Homo sapiens: one gene and its partner. The protein of the gene in region 2 purifies or fractionates together with the protein of the main gene of each other region. This does not show direct contact. Each region holds a gene or a part of one and is shown on either strand. Other genes may lie near its edges.

What was found. The genes of interacting proteins can lie anywhere in the genome.
Region 1: the proteins of GLT1D1 (region 2) and ASAH1 purify together in Homo sapiens (affinity purification with mass spectrometry; 2 studies listed by BioGRID and IntAct, with this or other methods). This does not show direct contact.

Annotation. Positions count from the first base shown.
Region 1 is NC_000008.11:18,060,108-18,067,135, reverse strand, and holds part of ASAH1 (acid ceramidase isoform a preproprotein), read left to right. Parts: intron 1-2,604; coding exon 2,605-2,679; intron 2,680-3,905; coding exon 3,906-3,951; intron 3,952-4,712; coding exon 4,713-4,857; intron 4,858-5,395; coding exon 5,396-5,450; intron 5,451-5,677; coding exon 5,678-5,759; intron 5,760-7,028. UniProt on the Homo sapiens protein: Lysosomal ceramidase that hydrolyzes sphingolipid ceramides into sphingosine and free fatty acids at acidic pH.
Region 2 is NC_000012.12:128,940,476-128,947,503, forward strand, and holds part of GLT1D1 (glycosyltransferase 1 domain-containing protein 1 isoform 2 precursor), read left to right. Parts: intron 1-4,850; coding exon 4,851-4,894; intron 4,895-6,862; coding exon 6,863-6,983; intron 6,984-7,028.

The sequences.
Region 1 (7,028 bases), on a different chromosome or scaffold from region 2:
AGGTGCTGTATGTCTTAGATATACAGCACAGGTGCACAGGTCTTAGATATACAGCTCAGTGAAGCTTCAGAAATGCATGCATGCATGTAGCCATGACTCAGATCAAGATACGGAAGAGCCCAGCACTCCACGATGCTCCATCATGCCCCTTTGCAGAAAATACTGCCTCCTCCAGTAAACACTATTCTGATGTCACTATAGATTAGTTTTGCCTCTTCGTGAACTTTGTATAAATAGAACTGAACAATATGAACTGTCCTGTGTGATTTCTTGTATTTCATTATGGGTGGTGTGCTATTGTATCAACAGGGTATTTGGGTGGTTTTCAGATTTGTGATATTAACAATAAAGGAATTATAAATATTGTAGTACATTTTGGGGGTGTCTGGGTACTCATTTTCTGGATATATACCTAGGAAGTGAACTGTTGTGTTATAGAGTAATTGTGTGTTTAGCCTTATAGATTCTGCCAAACAGTTTTCCAAAGTGATTCCAGCAGTTGACAATCAGCAGAGTATGAGAGTTTCAGTTTTCTCCTCTTGATAATTCTCCTCTCGATAGTGTCAGTCTTTTTTTTTCCTTTTTTTTTGTTAGTGTCAATCTTTATTTGAGCCTTTTTGTTGAGTGTCGCAGTATCGCATTTTAGTTTCAATTTGCATTTCCTTGATGATTAATGAGATTGAACAGTTTATTGACTTTTTTTTTTTTTTTTTGGTTTTCTTTGTTTCTTTTGGAGAAGGGCTTGTGAAGGTCTTTTGCCCTTTTAAAAATTAGATTGAAGGAATTTTTTACATACTTTGAATATAAGCCCTTTGTCAGATATATGGATTCTGAATATCTGCTCCCAGTCTATGACCTTCATTTTTATTCTCTTACTTTTGTCTTTTGATGAACAGAAATTTTTAATTTTAGTGAAGTCTAATATCTCAGTCTTCTCTTTTATGAGTAGTGCCTTTTGTATCCATTTAAGGAATCTTGGCCTACCCCAAAGTCATATATATATGCTTATATATTTTCTTCTAGATGTTTAATGTTTACTTTTTACATTTAGGCCTATCATCTATTTTGAATTATTTTTGTATATGCTATGACTTATGGGTCAAGCTTCAGGTTTTTCTCATGTGGTATATCCAGTTAGTTAAACAGCATCAATTCAAAAGGCTATCCTTTCCTCAGCAAATTGCAGTGGTGTCTTTGATATAAATATACAATACATATATATATACACACACACACACACACACACACACACAATGTGTATCTGTATATACAATCAGGTGATTGTATATATGTTGTTTTGTTTGGGGAATTAAGTTTCATTTACATATTTGTCTTTTTGTCTTCCCTTATATCAATACTATTTCACCTCAGTTACTAAAGCTTTATAGTAAGTCTTCAAATTAGGTGGTATAATTCTTCCAACTTTGTTTTTCTCAATATTTATTTAAGTTACTGATTTCTCTGAGCAGTATCTTTTATTTTCAGGGAGAAGACCTCACATGCCATTCGTTAAAATTATTCTTAGATATTGATGGTTTGGGAAGCTATTTTTAAAATTTCAATTTAAGCTTTATGGCATGTAACGAAAAATATTTTCCCCACGACCCCAAAAGTTTTATCTTTAAGCTAGCAAAGCAGTAGTGTCATTATTTTAAATAGCCAACAGTACCTTCATTTTATGAGATGATTGAGAATTTGTGAAAATCAGTAGTATTTATCAACAAAAGTGGCTAGTTTTGTGTGCTGCTTCTTTAAAAAACTCATTTAAAAGATAGCATACTGGAAATATGTACTTGCTGCCTTTATGGAAAGCAAGTCTAATTCCTTTATTATGTAAAGAACTCTAGCAACTCAATACCAAATAGAAATACCTTATGGATTAAGAAGAATAACATGATGTATAAGTGGTGTAAATTTATATAATTATTATAAATTATTATAAATGTATAATAAAATAACTAGAATTTCACCAAATTAGAAATTTAATGGAAATAAAATACACATTGGATTTGGGTGAAAAAAACATGTTGAGCTTAACATGTTAATGTTAAATGGGACAGAAATACAATGTGCTGCCTACTTTTGAATTAAATGCTAAATAGCAGTATTATACATTTTGGGAAAATATTCAAAAAATAAAATACCCTAGAATGGAGTTTCTTGGCAGCTCTGTACTAATTTTAATAGTTCTTGAATCTCCTTTTTCACCTTAGAAATTTTAGTCACACTTTAAAAATCTGGGCAAAATATATGTCCAGCAAACAGCCAAGAGCCAGATGTATTAAATGATCATATTTACGCTCCCAAAAGAAAATTCAAAATGAAGCATGTTGATAAACATTTTGGATGTGATGTTGGAGAACAATTGCAACCTGCCCAGATGTTCAGCTCGCCCGAAGGCTGCCTCCTTGGTGACTTGTTTCATCTTGAGTCTAGAGAGTCCAGGCTGGGGAAGAAAACCACCTCCAGCCGGCCGTTCCAGCACAGCCCCACTGGCCAAAGCACACACTCACACAATGAAAACACTGAAACTTTTTCTTAAAACAAATTTTTCTCCCATTGTCATGGTTCTGTATATTAACACAAAATTTTCTTTTCTCATAGGAGAGATTATTTCATTCAATATTTTTTATGAATTATTTACCATTTGTACTTCAATAGTAGCAGAAGACAAAAAAGGTAATTGTGCGCTGAGGGAGGGTGGGCAGCATGAAGCACTACATAAAGAAAAATCTTCTAAATGAAATTAGAACTTCTGAAATTTGGGCTTGCTATGTAAATTCTGTGTATGTTGCATACAGCTTTTTATTTCTTGGTAAAATTTTGTGATTGTACTGAAAATTTTCCTTATTTTCAGACTACTGTACTGCCTATTAAAGTTGATTTCAGACATGCAAAAAACCTGGAAGAAATGTTGCAGGGCTAGAAACATTCTTCTCTTCCTCATAGTTTACTTCTACCCATCTACATGCTTTGATGGAAGTGCTCGCAGGAGGTGCTTCCTTATCTTCGTGTATGTCATGACATCTGTCCTTTTCTTGAGGCCCAGAACACACATTCTCCCATCCTTTCCCAGCCAGGCAACCCAATGGATACCAGCCTCACTTTCCCGTATTTTTCCTGACTGGTTCCCAGAGTACAAAGCACAGGACAACTTCGCTAACTCACCCTGATCTTTGACCTATACTCTGGGTATAAATCTGCCTGTACCTTACCCTTGAGATGTCCTGCTCTAGGGGATGATGCCTGAAGGGAAACATTTGATGAATCACAGTAATTGAGGCTCCGATTTCTGTGTCCTGGTAGAACCATGTGATAGTGAACCAAAACATGACCATTGATTCCTTTTCCCATATTCTGATCTTACCTGGAAACCCGTGCTCTCAGATTTTGTGGGGTTATCTGGCAGATAGACGGTGACAACAGTCCCATCTGGTGAAGGCTTAGGATATTAGGATGTTTCTTACTTCTTATTGTTTGAAGAAACAGTTGTGAATAAAAATTAATCAAAATTAGAGGCCAGGCACAGTGGCTTACACCTGTAATGCCAGCACTTTGCGAGGCCGAGGCGGGCGAATCATCTGAGGTTGGGAGTTTGACACCAGACTGGCCAACATGGTAAAACCCCTTCTCTACTAAAAGAAAAATACAAAAAAAAAAAAAAAGTAGCCAGGTGCGGTCGCACATGTCTGTAATCCCAACTACGTGGAAGGCTGAGGCACAAGAATTGCTTGAACCTGGGAGGCAGAGGTCGCAGTGAGCTGAGATCGCACCACTGCACTCCAGTCTGGCCAACAGAACGAGACTCTGTCTCAAAAATAAATTAATTAATCAAAATTAATTGTCCAGCTTTGATTTAGAATCTTAACTGCTATTACACGTCTCTTCTGTCTACCTTCAAATAGGTCATCTAATACATGGGAGAAACATGGATTTTGGAGTATTTCTTGGGTAAGTAAAGAACAAAGGGTCAGGCATGGTGGTTCACGCCTGTAATCCCAGCTTTTTGGGAGGCTGACACGGGTGGATCACGAGGTCAGGAGTTCAAGACCAGCCTGGCCAAGATGGTGAAACCCCGTCTCTACTAAAAACATAAAAATTAGCCAGGCATGGTGGTGGGCATCTGTAATCCCGGCTACTTGGGAGCCTGAGGCAGAGACTTTTTTGAACCTGCGAGGCGGAGGTTGCAGTGAGCCGAGATCGCGCCACTGCACTGCAGCTTGGGATACAGAGCCAGACTCCATCTCAAAAAAAAAAAAAAAAAAAAGAACACAGAACTGTTTTGGTCTGTAGGAAGAGTAGGTTGTGTTATATTGATGATAAGTAAGTCCCAAGTCACACCCAAAATGTGATCATAAGTGAAGATAAATGGATTGCTTGAGTGCTGAGACAAGAGGGACATGCTCTTCTATTTTATGTGTCCATCTTGACCTTTCTGAAAAAATAAGAATATTGTAATTAGCATTCTATGTTTGAATCTGAGGCTCACTATTTATAAGCTGTGTGATATTGAGAGAGTTACCTGACTTCTCTGAACCTCAATTTTATCATTTGGAAAACAGAATAAATATACCATATTGTAAAGGTCTTGTTAGGATTGATCGTGGTGACTCGGTAAATAAAGCTCCTAGTGTAATGCCTGGCCCTCATCATCATGTTGATCATTACTATCACTGTGTTTCTGAAATGTCACTGAAACATGTCTTTTATAGGTGGAACATAAATAATGATACCTGGGTCATAACTGAGCAACTAAAACCTTTAACAGTGAATTTGGATTTCCAAAGAAACAACAAAACTGTCTTCAAGGCTTCAAGCTTTGCTGGCTATGTGGGCATGTTAACAGGATTCAAACCAGTAAGGAGTCTGTTGTTACATAATTATACAGGTAGCCTTCTGTCCTGTTACCGTTATGTAAAAGTTGAAATCTAAGAATATGAGGACCTAAAGGGAATATGAAGCCCCATTTCACCCCCTTGTACTTCTTGTCACTTCATAGGTATGAGATCTCGTGGTAGAGAAGAGTAGAAAGGAAACGGAGGTTTCTGAGCCTCTTCTGGGATAAAGAGCATGTGGCTGGGTGTCAAGGGCTGGGAGTCACAATCTGATTTCTAGTCCTGGGTCTTCCGCTCACTTAGGCAAGTCAGGCGTTCATTCTCTGCCCTTCAGTTTCCTGTCCAAAAAGCGTTGCCAGTGATACCCCACCTACTTATCTCACATACTAGAATCAAAAATGCTTTGAACTTTTTAAAAAGCCTTTTATGGTTTTGATTTATTTTTGCCTTCCCCATTACCCAAGCTAGGCCTTTATATCCCACTCTGAAGTACAGTGAGCGACAGGGCCTTAAAGCGCATGGTTGATGTTTCTGACTTCGTTGCTTTGTCTTTTTCTCAGGGACTGTTCAGTCTTACACTGAATGAACGTTTCAGTATAAATGGTGGTTATCTGGGTAAGTAGAGCATTCTCAAGTGAAATGGGAATCTCAGAGCTTTTTTATGAGGAAGGCTGGACTGTGCCTTCTGGTTACAAAGTCCAACCTCTTCCGGTTCCCGACTGGTTACAAAGTCTAACCTCTTCTGGTTCCTGACTGGTTATATAGTCCAGCCTCTTCCGGGTCCTGACTGGTTACATAGTGTCACCTCTTCCGGTTCCTGACATTGTGTTCATCTCTTCCAGGTATTCTAGAATGGATTCTGGGAAAGAAAGATGTCATGTGGATAGGGTTCCTCACTAGAACAGTTCTGGAAAATAGCACAAGGTAAAGTGTTTCGTTGCTTTACTATTAAATATTTATTTTAAATTACTCATATTAAAAAATAAAAATATTTGTCAAGCTCCAGCTTAATCCTTTGAGGAACTATTGCAGAATTTCTTAGGTGAACCTCTGACACTCATGTGGAATTACTCATGTTTTCTTCGTGCAGACTGTGTGTTTTATAGCAAATAAATGAATTACTTAAAAAGCACTAGGGATACTGACATTATGAAAGGCACCTATGAATATTTTTGGTGTACAGAAAAAAAATGACCCACACACAAAAGAACAGTCATACAGTAAAATCTTCATTTAAATGGTAGTACAGACCAGGCACAGTGGCTTATGCCTGTAATCCTCACGCTTTGGGTGGCTGAGATAGACAGATGACTTGCACCCAGGGGTTTGAGACCAGTCTGAGCAACATGGCGAAACCCCGTCTCTATAAAAAATACAAAAATTAGCCAGGCATGGTGACACGTGCCTGCCTGTAGTCCCAGCTACTCAGGAGGCTGAGGTGGGAGGATCACCTGAGCCCAAGGAGGTCGAGACTGCAGTGAGCTGGGATCAGTCCACTGCACTTCACCCTGAGTGATAGAGTGAGACTCTGTCTTAAAAAAACAAAATAAATAAATACAAAATGTACTACATATTAACCTGTAAGTTATATCTTGCCTTGGTATAGAAATCTTACAATAGCAAAACTGCCTTTCCTTCATTCAGCCAGCACTGCGTCCAAATAAATGGGCATCAATCCTATTTTTAATACTTCCCAGGGAATAAGATTTAATGTTAGTAGTGTTCTTTGATAACCCACTTCAATTTTTAATAGTCCTAATTTTCAAGAAGGTTTACTTTCTGTTCTCTAAGTCCTACATACTGTAATATTATTTCCCTTTGTTCTGTTGTTGAGTGAAAGGCATGGACAGTAAGGGTGGAAGATGATCTCTTGAGGCCACTTTGTTTCTCCTTCAGATTAGAGGGGCTTCCTAAGATTCCCGCTTCCCATCTCAGTGTTCACCATACAGGGTCAGGGATTGCTTTTCCCAGAGGCATTGCTCACCATCCTTTTTTAGAAAACACATTGTGGCTGGCCATGGTGGCTCATGCCTGTAATCCCAGTACTTTGGGAGGCGAAGGCAAGAGTATCGCTTGTGCCAAGGAGTTCGAGACCAGCCTGGGCAACAGAGTGAGAGCCCATCTCTAAAAATAGAAATAAATAAATAACACATTCCTTAGATACTTGTTTTTCTTTAGTTTCTACAGAGCTAA
Region 2 (7,028 bases):
GCCTGGGTGGCCTGACCCTGGCCCTCTGTATCCGGAGTCCCCTCAGTCTGGTGCTGCCTCTTTCTGGCCTCCACACATCCACTACGAGTTTGCTTAAAAACTTCTGGCCTGTCTTTGAGGAGCGATAAGTTTGAACATGTTGCTATTAATTTTTGCATGAATTCAACAAGTGTGTTATTAGCCTTCAGGAATGCAACAGGACGGAAATAGTCCCTGCCCCAAAGCACCTGTTCCTTCCAGATGCAAAGCAGGAGTCAAGTCGGGACTGGAGGATGTTAGGTTGTGACTAATGAAAAGGCTGCCCCTGGCCTTTAAAAAGTTGAGGTGGAATTCACATGCCACGAAATTCACCATTTTAGAGGGTACAAGCCAGTGGGTTTTAGTCTATTCACAAAGTTGTGCAACCATCACACCTATCTCATTCCTGAATATTTTTTCTCTCCCCAAGAGGATACCCTCTATCCACTAAGCAGTCACTTCCCATTTCCGCCTCACCCCAATAACCCCTAATTAGATCCTGAGTGACCCCTGGGTAACCACCAATCTACTTTCTGTCTCTGTGATTTGCCTGCTTTGGCCATTTCATAGACATGGAATCATACACTCTGTGGTCTTTCCTGTCTGGTGTAACTCACGTGGCATCGTGTTTTCCAAGCTCACCCTTGTTGCTGCCTAAGTTGGCACTTCCTTGTCACGGCTGAGTGGCACTCCTTTGTATGGATTGGCACATCACGTCTACTCATTCATCAGCTGATGATCAGGTCCTGGCCTTTCAAACTGTTTCTGCGAAGTCATCCTGTTAAAAAATATTTTGATATGGTCAGACCTTTGGTCATAGACTTACTAAGGATTCCAACCTATTCTGCCTGAATGATTTTATGACAAAATCCTTCTGCATCATTTAAGCAACACTTCCACTGCAATATTGGGTGGTTGTCAAATTGTCCCATTTCTGGAAACGACTCTGTCTCAAGACCTTAAGTTGGCTGAAGGGTTCTCACTCACCACACTCAGGTGTAGCCATACAGGCTCCTAACCAGAGTCTATATGTATTCTTTGGAACATTCTGTCTCTTCTTTCTCTCTCTCTTTCTCTTTTTTTTTTTTTTTTTTTTTGAGACAGAGTCTCACTCTGTTACCTAGGCTGGAGTGCAATGCGGTCATCTCGGCTCACTGCAACCTCCGCACCCCGGGTTCAAGCGATTCTTCCGCTTCAGCTTCCCAAGTAGCTGGGATTACAGGTGCTCACTCTACCCCCACGCCCAGTCAATTTTTGTGTTTTTAGTAGAGACAGGCTTTCACCATGTTGGCCAGCAGGCGGGTCTCGAACTCTTGATCACATGATCCCCCCTCCTCAGCCTCCTAAAATGCTGGGATTCCAGGCATGAGCCACCAGCATGAGCCACCGTGCCTGGTCTCTCTCTCTCTCTCTTTTTTTTTTTTTTTTTTTTTTTTACTATTATTGTTTTTATTATTTAATAGCTGGGCTCATAGTACCATTTCCTACTTATTTTTTTCCCTCTCTGAATTGTTGAGTCTGGCTCTGCTGCCATTTGATGTAATTCCTGGAGACTTAGCTTCATTTCAGGCTTTTGCTAACATGTGTCTTCTTTTTTTTTTTTCCACTGTTTTAAGGTCATTTATTAGAACACAGTCATTCAGAAGCCACTGAGACATCAGGCAGCAGGAAGGAAGGTGGGGTGGAGCAGGCCCTGTGAAGGACCAAGGACAAAGTAATAGCCTCAGTTATGAAATTTCATTTTATTCTGATAAAGACTAATGTATGCCTGATAACCTAGTGATAATCCACAAGTTTGGTAGTTCACAACATTTTTAGAAAGCACGTACGATTAACATTTAAATAAGGCATTATAGAAAGTTTTATAAAGAATGAAGTGTGTACTATAATTCTTTTAAGAAACTTTGGTTCATCTTGAAAGATCAATGAATTTTTAAAATATCAGAAGAAAAGGAAAATAAATTTTTTTCCCCAAAAATACATAAGAACTGCTTACTGGCACTTGTATTTTAAGTACCTGGGGAAAAAATGGAAAAGATTTTTAAAGGCAATTAATAACAGCTTGTACGAGGGCTTGTTTCATTTGTTCTGGCACCAAGTAAAGAGTAAATACGCCATGGAAGACGCCATCAGGTTTTCCGTCCACCTCTCCTACTGCCCCACTTCTCCCAGACCACACAGCACATCAGCAGCCATCCTTGCTGCCCCACTCAGGAATCACTTTAGATTCCAATTTTCTTTGTTTGTTTGTTTTTGTTTTTTGTTTTTTTTTTTTGAGACAGAGTCTCGCTCTGCCCCCCAGGCTGGAGTGCGGTGGCACGATCTAGGCTCACTGCAACATCCACCTTCCGGGTTCAAGTGATTCCCCTGCCTCAGCCTCCTGATTAGCTGGGGCTACAGGCGCGCCATCCAGCCCGAGTAATTTTTTGTATTTTAGTAGAGACGGGGTTTCACCATGTTGGCCAGGATAGTCTCGATCTCCTGACCTCATGATCCACCCGCCTCGGCCTCCCAGAGTGCTGGGATTATAGGCGTGAGCCACCACGCCCGGCCTAGATTCCAGTTTTTAAATGGCTTCTCAGATGACACCAACAGAGTTCTTTCCCTTTAAAATAAGGTGGCAGTGAATGCTAACAGGTATCGATTTCTTGGATCAGGAACAAAGAACTCCTTCAGGAAACTCACTTACTGGTCCTGGTTAACCTATTGTGTAAAGTCTTTTTATTGGCACACCTGTTTACTAATTATGATTGATTGCTATTTATGCCAAGGGAGCGTTTCCCAGGCATATCTCATCTATTTACTAACGACAAAGTGTGCTTACTTTATTTACATAGTGCCACAGGTTTTCTCTTTTCTCTCTTTTTTTTTTTTGGCAGGGAGTGGCACTATAACTTGTTATTTATCAGGGCGGATCATACATTTGGATCAAAAAGAGGAACCGGCAAGTAGATCCTAAAACACATTTCTCAACCTGAGTCACATCTGAAAACATATAGATTTTAATTACATTTTGTTGAAAATTCATTCAACTTCGGTGCTTGTCCAAGAACTTATAATGTTAATTTCTGACATAAATCATAACCCTCAGTACATATGTATTTTCAAAGGAAACAAGTCATCTTAAAGTAATATTTTTCTATATGCGAATGGATACATTGTTGTAGCAAATTGAAAATTCTGAGTAAACTGAAAGTATGCTTAACAACAAAATAAATACAGCATATATGGTTAGCATACACATTTCTTAGTAGCAGAGGATTTGTGTCTTACAACAAATCTGTAAACCCACTTGCTTTCTTTCTGGTATTTTATATAGTGTCTCCCCATGTTCCACAACGCTGGAGATGTCTTTTGTGGCATCGATCTGTGCAAACATTTCTGATCACATATTTTCCCCCAATGACATGTAACTTTTTTTTAACTTTTCCGGGAAAATACGGAAGCTTTATCAACCACTTATTAACTGAACAAAAACTTAGATTACTACCAAATGCTCTTTTAATTTTGCTCCAACAGATGTTTTAAAAGTTCAGACATCACTGATGTTTTTGAGGATAGCTGCGTAAAACACACTAGATGATTTCAAAGGATGAATCTTAGTATCTGACTCATTTGGCACATCCTTAGTATCTAGAATCAAATCAGTAGAAATAAAAGTCATATAATTTTCAAAGAATTCATACATACTGGAATTCTTAGGAAAAGCAGCTTCTAAATGCAAGGACTATGAGGTTTGCCCATCTTACTACTAATAGTTCCACACATTTCTCCTTATAGAGTAACTGAAGCTTCCTGGCTTGTTTGAGGAACGTCAGTTTGGAGGAAAGCATATCCACAGGGCCAAATCTTGTTGGTTTCTGTTCTGGAGAATGTTTCCAACACCGCTTTTTTTCTGGTAATAGTCCAGGACTGGCTTTGTTTGGCTTCATAAGCCTTTAGTCTCTTGATAACCATCTCTGGTTTATCATCCTCACGCTGAATGAGCGGCTCCCCTGTCAGAGCATCAATGCCCACAGTTGTGGGAGGGTTGAATCCAATGTTGTAGACTTGGCCATTGGTGAGATGAATCCAGTGAGCAGTAAGGCGTTGTTTAATGACCTCAAAGGACATATTCAGGTTAATCACTGTGTCGGTCTGATCAGCTTTATCTAGGGCTTCTGCCTGTGGAAGTGTCCTTGGAAAACTATCCAACAGCTAGACTGGGTGAGATTTTGCAGTTCCTGAAGGGCCACGCCAAGATGACATCATTTGGGATGAGTTTCCCTTGGTCAATGAAAGCCTTGGCTAACACGTCAATTTATATATATATGTATATATATATATAAAGTTCTGGGGTACATGTGCACAATGTGCAGGTTTGTTACATAGGTATACATGTGCCATGGTGGTTTGCTGCACCCATCAACTCGTCATTTACATTAGGTATTTCTCGTAACGCTATCCCTCCTCCAGCCCCCGACCCCCAACAGGCCCCGGTGTGTGATGTTCCCCTCCCTGTGTCCATGTGTTCTCATTGTTCAATTCCCACCTATGAGTGAGAACATGTAACAGGCCAATTTCTGCGCCCCGCAGCATGTTGTCCCGGAGCAGGTCCCCGCTGGAAAGGTGCTTTAGCTCGAAGTATTGAGTGATACGCGACGACACAGTGCCCTTGCCCGAGCCGGGGGCCCCCATGATCACCACACGCAGCAGCCGCGAGGACACCCCCGTGGCCGCAGACCGAGGCCCACGCCGCGCTGGCACCAGGGCTTTGGCCTGGCCCGTGCTGGCCGGCTGGCAGCGCCACTAGCAGGCGGCGACCGCTGACATTTATCTTTGTCTCTTTTCAGGTCGATCCAGTGTTTACAAGGGAAGTGAAAGCCAAAGTGAAAAGGTAAGAGTTGGTGGAGACCAGTCATTTTGCAGAACGGGAAGCCTGAGTGGCCCCTGGGTTACCTGAACTCACATTTATCCAGTCCCAGGCACTATTCCAAGCAGTTTCCAACTGTTTCCTCATGCATCTTCCCGGCGAGCCCGTGGCATCCTAGGCACTATTATTTGCCCAGGGAAAGGCCAATAAAAATCACTTTGTGATTATAATTTTTAATGGATCACATTGGCCAGAATGGAAAGATTTAAACTCTCAAGGATTTGGAAGAATGGAGGGGTATTGCCCTTTGTCACAGCCTGCCTGGAGGGCAATTTGTTGGTGTGTTGGTTATAAGTTGCATTTGTCGGCCAGGAACCCAACAGCACAGGCTTGAACAGATTGAACTTTCATTGCTCACATCAACAAGTCTGAGGGTGGTCATTCAAGGAGCAAAACGGAGGCTTCCCTGAGACCTCAGGGATTTGGCTCCTGTCTCTGTCCTGACTTCCTCAGCCTGTGGCTCCCATCCTGAAGGTGACATGGTAGCTATAGAGCTGTGTCATCAGTCTGCATTTTAAGTGGGGTGATGGGAATGAGCAGACCAGAAGGATGTGGGTCTTATTTGGGTCAGCCCCCTGTAAAGTGGTGTCTTCACAGCCCCCCAGGATTCCAGCCAGACTCATTGGCCACACCAACCACAAAGGGCACTGACAAAGACTGTTTTTTCCCCATCTATAATCAGGGATCTTTAGATTGCTCCTAGGTGCAGACGCGTGTGTGCAAAAGTATCACCTGCTCGGGGAAGGGAGGCCTGGCAGAGCCATGAGAGTGGTGGCCAGCGGTGGGGACGGGGAAGATCGAAGAAAGGCGAAGATTTACATTGTCTGGTGAAAAAAATAGAACAAGGCAAAATGTCTATGACAAAATAGCTGTCAGCGCTGTGTGCTGGGAACAGGGCTTTTGTGACATTATCGTCTCTAGTATTTCTATTTCCATTCTTTTTTGTTGTTGTTGTTGTTGAGACAGAGTTTCGCTCTGTCGCTCAGGCTGGAGTGCAGTGGCGTGATCTCAGCTCACTGCAAGCTCCACCTCCTGGGTTCACGCCATTCTCCTGCCTCAGCCTCCTGAGTAGCTGGGACTACAGGCACCCGCCGCTGCGCCCGGCTAATCTTTTGTATTTTTAATAGAGACAGGGTTTCACCATGGTCTCGATCTCCTGACCTCGTGATCACCCGCTTTGGCCTCCTAAAGTGCTGGGATTACAGGCGTGAGCCACTGCGCCCGGCCTCCTTTTTTTTTTTTTTTTTTTTTTTTTTTTTTTGAGACCTAGTCTTGCTCTGTCATCCAGGCTGGAGTGCAATGGCACAATCTCAGCTCACTGCAATCTCCGCCTCCCGGGTTCGAGCAATTCTCCTGCCTCAGCCTCCCAAGTAGCTGGGATTACAGGTGCGCACCACCACGCCTGGCTAATATTTGTATTTTTAGTAGAGACGGGGTTTCGCCATGTTCGCCAGGCTGGTCTCCAACTTCTGATCTCAGGTGATCTGCCCGCCTCAGCCTCCCAAAATGCTGGGATTACAGGTGTGAGCCACTGCACCCGGCCTATTTCTATTATTTCTATTCTTATTGTCTCATTAGTATTTTAAAGAATTATTTGAAAAAAAGTTGAATTATTAGAAAAATGTTCTCTAAATCATGCAGAGAAAATGGCATGAACCTTGTCTCTGACTCTTCTAGTCCTTGAGAGCAGGTGTCTTTATGGAGCATATGGAAAACAAAAGCAGACATGTTAAGCAACTCCCTCCCTCCCTTGTCAGGGACATGAGCTGTAAGGATTTCCACCCCAGTATAGTTCTCCTGGCTGAACGCTTGGTCAACAATGCTTACTTGCTGATCTAGAGTATTACACCCAAATTGTCATCTCTCCTCCTCCCAGCTGCCTACCCATGAGATTCTTGGAATCAGAGCCACTCTTCCTGCTTTGTGTTTCAGAGCCGCTGGGGTACGATTGATTGGAGAGATGCCTCAAGAAGATCTGCACGCGGTGGTGAAGAATTGCTTCGCGGTGGTGAATAGCTCTGTCTCTGAAGGCATGTCAGCTGCAATTTTGGAGGTAATTATGTAACTCGAGTACTGAAAGTGGGAGTGTGAAATTGTC